Homo sapiens: one gene and its partner. The protein of the gene in region 1 interacts with the protein of each later gene in a pairwise test. Each region holds a gene or a part of one and is shown on either strand. Other genes may lie near its edges.

Region 1 (2,302 bases):
TGGTCTGGCCCCTGCCACTCAATAACTCTGTCACCCTGAACAAATCACTTCACTTTTTTTTTTTTTTTTTTTTTTTTTGAGACTTGAGTCTTACTCTCTCACCCAGGCTGGAGTGCAGTGGTGTGATCTCAGCTCACCACAACCTCCGCCTCCCAGGTTCAAGTGATTCTCCTGCCTCAGCCTCCCAAGTAGCTGGGACTACAAGCACCCACCACCATGCCCAGCTAATTTTTTTGTACTTTTAGTAGAGATGGGGTTTTACCATGTTGGCCAGGCTGGTCTTGAACTCCTGACCTCAGGTAATTCACTCTCCTCAGCCTCCCAAAGTGCTGGGATTACACGTGTGAGCCATCGTGCCCAAGGCCCACTTCACTTTTCAGCTTCAGTTTCCACCTCTGGAAAATGGGGATAATCTTTCTTTCACAAGATTATTAAGAGTGGCCAGGCGAGGTGGCTCACGACTGTAATCCCAGCACTTTGGGAGGCTGAGGTGGGCAGATCACCTGAGGGAGTTTGAGACCAGCCTGACCAACATGGAGAAACCCTGTCTCTACTAAAAATTAAAAAAATTAGCCGGGTGTGGCTGAGCGCGGTGGCTCACGCCTGTAATCCCAGCACTTTGGGAGGCTGAGGTGGGCTGATCACGAGGTCAGGAGATCGAGACCATCCTGGCTAACACGGTGAAACCCCGTCTCTACTAAAAATACAAAAAAAATTAACCGGGCATGGTGGTGGGTGCCTGTAGTCCCAGCTGCTCGGGAGGCTGAGGCAGGAGAATGGCATGAACCCGGGAGGCGGAGCTGGCAGTGAGCCAAGATTGCGCCACTGCATTCCAGCCTGGGCAACAGAGCGAGACTCCATCTCAAAAAAAAAAAAAAAAAAAAAAATTAGCCGGGTGTGGTGGCACATACCTGTAATCCCAGCTACTCGGGAGGCTGAGGCAGGAGAATCACTTGAACCCAGAAGGTGGAGGTTGCAGTGAGCTGAGATTGTGCTATTGCACTCCAGCCTGAGCAACAAGAGTGAAACTCCGTCTCAAAAAAAAAAAAAAAAATTATTAAGAGGATGCAGGCTGGGCATAGTGTAATCACAGCACTTTGGGAGGCCAAGGTGGGAGGATTGCTTGAGCCCAGGAGTTCAAGACCAGCCTTCGCAATATCGTGAGACTCATCTCTATATTTAAAAGAAAAAAGGAGGCCGGGCACGGTGGCTCACGCCTGTAATCCCAGCACTTTGGGAGGCTGAGGCGGGCAGATCACAAGGTCAGGAGTTCAAGACCAGCCTGGCCAACATGGTGAAACCCCATCTCTACTAAAAATATACAAAATTAGCTGGATATGGTGGAGCGTGCCCATAATCCCAGCTACTCAGGAGGCTGAGGCAGGAGAATTGCTTGAACCGGGACCTGGGAGGCGGAGGTTGCAGTGAGCCAAGATCCTGCCACTGCACTCCAGCCTGGACTACAGAGCAAGACTCTGTCTCAAAGAAAAAGAAAAAAGAGAGGATGCAGTGAAATAAGGTCAGAGCCTGTGCCAGAAGAGTTGTCAGCCAGTCACTCCCCTTCTTCCCACCCCTCATTGTCCCCTGCGTCACCTACCCCCTGCCTGTGGGGCCTAGACTTCGAGCCTGGAGGTTGCCTACAATGACAAAAGGAAAGGCTTGTAGTGGGCAGAGGGCATAGAGTCAAAGCACACAGACCCAGAGGGTGGCTTCCTCTGCCCGGCCTGTTACCGCTCCACCTCCCACATACATACCAGCAGCCCCTGGGCAGGGAGGGGCTGGGCACCAGCAGCTCCAGATAGGGAAGGTCCTTGAACTCATCCTCTCCGACAGCCACATAGTAATGGCCAGTTACCAGCTCCTTCCCTGCTGACAGTGGGAGCCCCTCTAGGGTGCAGAGTCTGGGAGAGAGAGGTGAGGAGGATAAGGGCTGGTAGACTCGATGCTTCTTCACATTCAGCAGACTGAAGGGGTGGGTGCAGCTATTCCAAGGTGCCCTCTGGCCTCTAGGCACCCAGGCTCTACCCTGCCTCTGAGGGCTGGGCAGAGGGCCCTCTCCCAGTGGCATAGGGGGAAGTCCCATGTGGGGGAACATGCTTTCCTTTTGCCTCTTCATCCTCAGCCACAGCTGAAGCCAGTGGCGAGGCTCTCTTTGGGGACTTTTGGGCCCTCGCAGTCCCCATACTCACTTGCACACAGCCCCACTCTGCAACTTGACCTTCTCAGTCAGGAGCTTCAACACAGTTTCCCAGTCCTGGCTGGCAGCCTGGGACAGCTTCAGACTAAATGGGGGACTTACCAG
Region 2 (3,500 bases), on another chromosome or scaffold:
AAATATGAATGAATGAATTACATGTATGTATGACTTTTTGGTACTGTCAAAGATAATAAATAGTTTGATACCTTGATCAGGAGAACGGTTAATCTTCTTTCTAAAAGTATTAAAGGTCAGAGAGATAGCAGCAAGATAGCCAACTAGAAGCCCCTAGTGCTTATGCCTCTGTCAAAGACAGCCAGAACAATGGAAAAGCAGCTGCATTTTAAAACTAATAGAAACTTGGGTGAGCACAAAAACTCAGGATGGCTACATAGAGAATAAGGAAATGCCAGGCCTTCACCATCCCATCCCCCAAGTGGGATCAGCTGGAAGCCAGGAGGAACTTCTTATGGTGAGGAGGTAAGCAGGATGACTCCAACAATCTCCATCAACACCCTGGACACCAACAGACCTTCCCACTGGTGTTCTCTGCAGTCTTCTTAGGCACCAAGCCCACATGGTGAAGCTGCCTGGAGTCTATATAGCTGTGCTTAGCCAGAGAAGGAGTTGACACTGTGCCCCACCTGCTGTGGCCCATGTGACTATTGGCTATGGCATCTTGGAACAGGAACTACAGCTAGACTGAGCCTTACTCAAGGAGTAAGTAGTCATGGCTCCCCTTCATCCCTGAGACTAAACCACCCCTGAACCACCCCATCCCCAGAGCCCCACATCCCCAATATGTGCTGTTAACAGCTGTTAACACTTTTTCCTGTGGGGTCAAGTGGAGGTGGAATTGCTCTACCAACTCCTCCCCCTGCCCCTGCTGAAGCAGCATCCTGTCTCTTGGGAAAACAGTACCTTGGCTATTCAGAGCAGTCATGTCTCCCTGGTGTCTAAGTTGAAGTGGTGCCCTGCATCCTAGGAAATTGTGCCTTGGCCATCCAGAGCAGTCATGCACTCCATTACTTAAGCTGAACTGATGCCCCGCATCCCAAGAAAACAGTGCTTGTGCAGCCCAGAACAGTCACATCCTTCAAGCCTGAGCTGAAGTGGCACATTGTCCCTTGGGGAATTAGTGCTCTGGCTGAGCTGAGCAGAAACTGAGCTGAGACACCTTGCTCTATAAACTGAACAATTTTAGACTTCGATTCCCCAGCACTGGCCTAGCTCTCTAGAGTCTCAGATGCAGAAGTACCCCTCTATCTAGGGAGTGGAGTCATTGCTGTGTTTTTTCCTACCCACCTGTCACCCAGGGAACAAACAACAGCTGTCCTCCACCATTCTGGAGTACTGAAAGCAAATACACTTGGCCCCACACATTCTGGGATACTGCTGAGCACCACTATCCCAGGGTCTACAATCACTACTACCCAGTGCCTCATCCCTTGGAACCTGAGTTGACACTGAGCCCTATTGACTCAGGTTTCTGAATTGCAGCCATACCCTGCTCCCAAGGCCAAAGTTCCAGAGCACTCCTTATTCCCTGGAGTCAGGCCAGTGCTGTGCCCTGCCCCCCAGGGGTAGAATCACAGCTACAACCTGGCACCCTGAGCCTGAGCTGCTAGGGGGTCCCTCAGAATCATAGATCCTGGCTCTATGGGTAACCTACATCCAACCCTGCCACAAGGGGTGAAGCTGCACCCCAAGCCCAGTTGCCTCAATAGCTTTATGAGATACTGAGCTGAAAACTCCTACTGCATGTAGAATCCTGATCACTGCACGTAGAACCCATGCCACTGCAGCTGCTTGTAGGCCATGTCAGACTTGACACCAAAAGGGATGCGCTCAGCTAAGTCTCCTTATTTTAGAGAAAACCAGAATAGGAGGACCCCAGAAGCCCTTAACACAAAGAACATTAAAAACTTATGTTGCCAGTGCCATTGCCACAAACCTCTAAGCGTAGGCTATGAGGCACCCACAGTTATTCCTGACCTTGAATACAACTGAAGAAGCTGCACAGAGACTCTATCTCTATACCTATCTGGAAACAGAGTCACTACACCTTTTCTAACTGCACAGTAAAACTCAACTGCAGGATGAAAGACTTTCTTTATGAAAATCACTCCAGAAAGTTTGAAAAAGGTGATTATTTCACTAGATACACAGACATCAATGCAGGGACACAAGAAACATGAAAAAGCAAGGAAATAAGAGACCAACAAAGGAATATAATAACTCTCTAGTAACAGACTCCAATTAAAAGGAAATCAATTAATTGCCAAAAAAATGTAAAATAATGATTGTAAGGAAACTCAATTAGATACAAGGAAACACAGATACACAATTAAATAAAATAAGAAAAAAATTCACAATATAAATGAAAAATTCAATAAAGAGATAAAAATCATAAAAAGAACAAAACAAGAATCCTGCAGTTGAAGAATTCAATGAATAAAATATAAAATACAATAGAGAGCTTCAGCAGCAGACTTGATCAAGCAGAAAAAAGAATCTCTGAACTTAAAGCTAGGTCTTTTGAAGTTACCCAGTCAGAGAAAAGAAAAAAGAAATAAGAATGAAAATGAGTGAAGAATTCCTATAAGACTTATTGGAAAACATTAAACAAACAGATATTTGTATTATGGAATTTCCAGAAGGAGAAGATAAGGAAAAAGTATAGAAAGCCTGTTTAATAAAATAATAACTGAAAACTTCCCAATTTAGTGGTGGGGGTTGTGGAGGAGGGATATTTGAACATCCAGCTCCAGGAAACTCAAAATTCCCCAAATAGATTCAACCCCAAAAAGGTCCTCTTAGAGGTACATTATAGGCAAATTGTCACAAGTCAAAGACAGAGAGTTCTAAAAACAGCAAGAGAAAATTGTCAAGTCACATAAGAGAACTGCATTAGACTAGTAAATTTTGCTACAGAAACCTCACAGGCGAGGAGAGAATAGAGTTATAAACTCAAAATGGTGAAAGAAGAAAAAAAATTGCTAGCTAAGAATACTATACCCAGCAAAGTTATCCTTCAGAAATTAGGAAGAAATAAAGCCTTCTCGAGGTAAGCAAAAACTGAAGGAATTTGTCACCACTCACCTGGCCTTACCAGAAATGCTTAAGTGATTTTCACTTACATCTGGAAGTGAAAATCACTGTCATGAAAACACACCAAAAGTATAAAGCTCATTGGTAGAGCAGATATATGAGGAGAAAGAGAAAAGAATCAAACCTTGTCACTACAGAAAACCACCAAACCACAATGATTAACTATAAGAGAAAAAGAAAGGAACAAAAGATATACAAGACAACAGGAAAACAACAAAATGGTGGATGTTAAGTCCTCACTTATCAATAATAACCTTGGCTGTAAACAGACTAAATTCCCAACTGAAAAGATATAGACTAGCTGAATGAATTAAAAAAAAAAAAGACCTAAGTATATGCTGCCTAAAAGAAACTCACTTCACCTAAAAAGACACATATAGAATAAAAATAAGGGATGGAAAAAAAATCCATACAAATGGAAACCAAAAGCAAGGGAGAATAGCTATACTTATATCAGGTAAAGCAGACTTTAAACAAAAAGAGACAAGGTTATTTTCACTTCAGCAAGAAGATGTAACAATTGT

Evidence for each region. The genes of interacting proteins can lie anywhere in the genome.
Region 2: the proteins of DCDC2B (region 1) and FHL5 interact in binary tests that used the Homo sapiens proteins (3 or more experiments, as listed by UniProt).

What each region holds. Positions count from the first base shown.
Region 1 is NC_000001.11:32,212,089-32,214,390, reverse strand, and holds part of DCDC2B (doublecortin domain-containing protein 2B), read right to left. Parts: coding exon 2,190-2,302; intron 1,902-2,189; coding exon 1,755-1,901; intron 1,638-1,754; coding exon 1,598-1,637; intron 1-1,597.
Region 2 is NC_000006.12:96,569,628-96,573,127, reverse strand, and holds part of FHL5 (four and a half LIM domains protein 5), read right to left. Parts: intron 1-3,500. UniProt on the Homo sapiens protein: May be involved in the regulation of spermatogenesis. Stimulates CREM transcriptional activity in a phosphorylation-independent manner.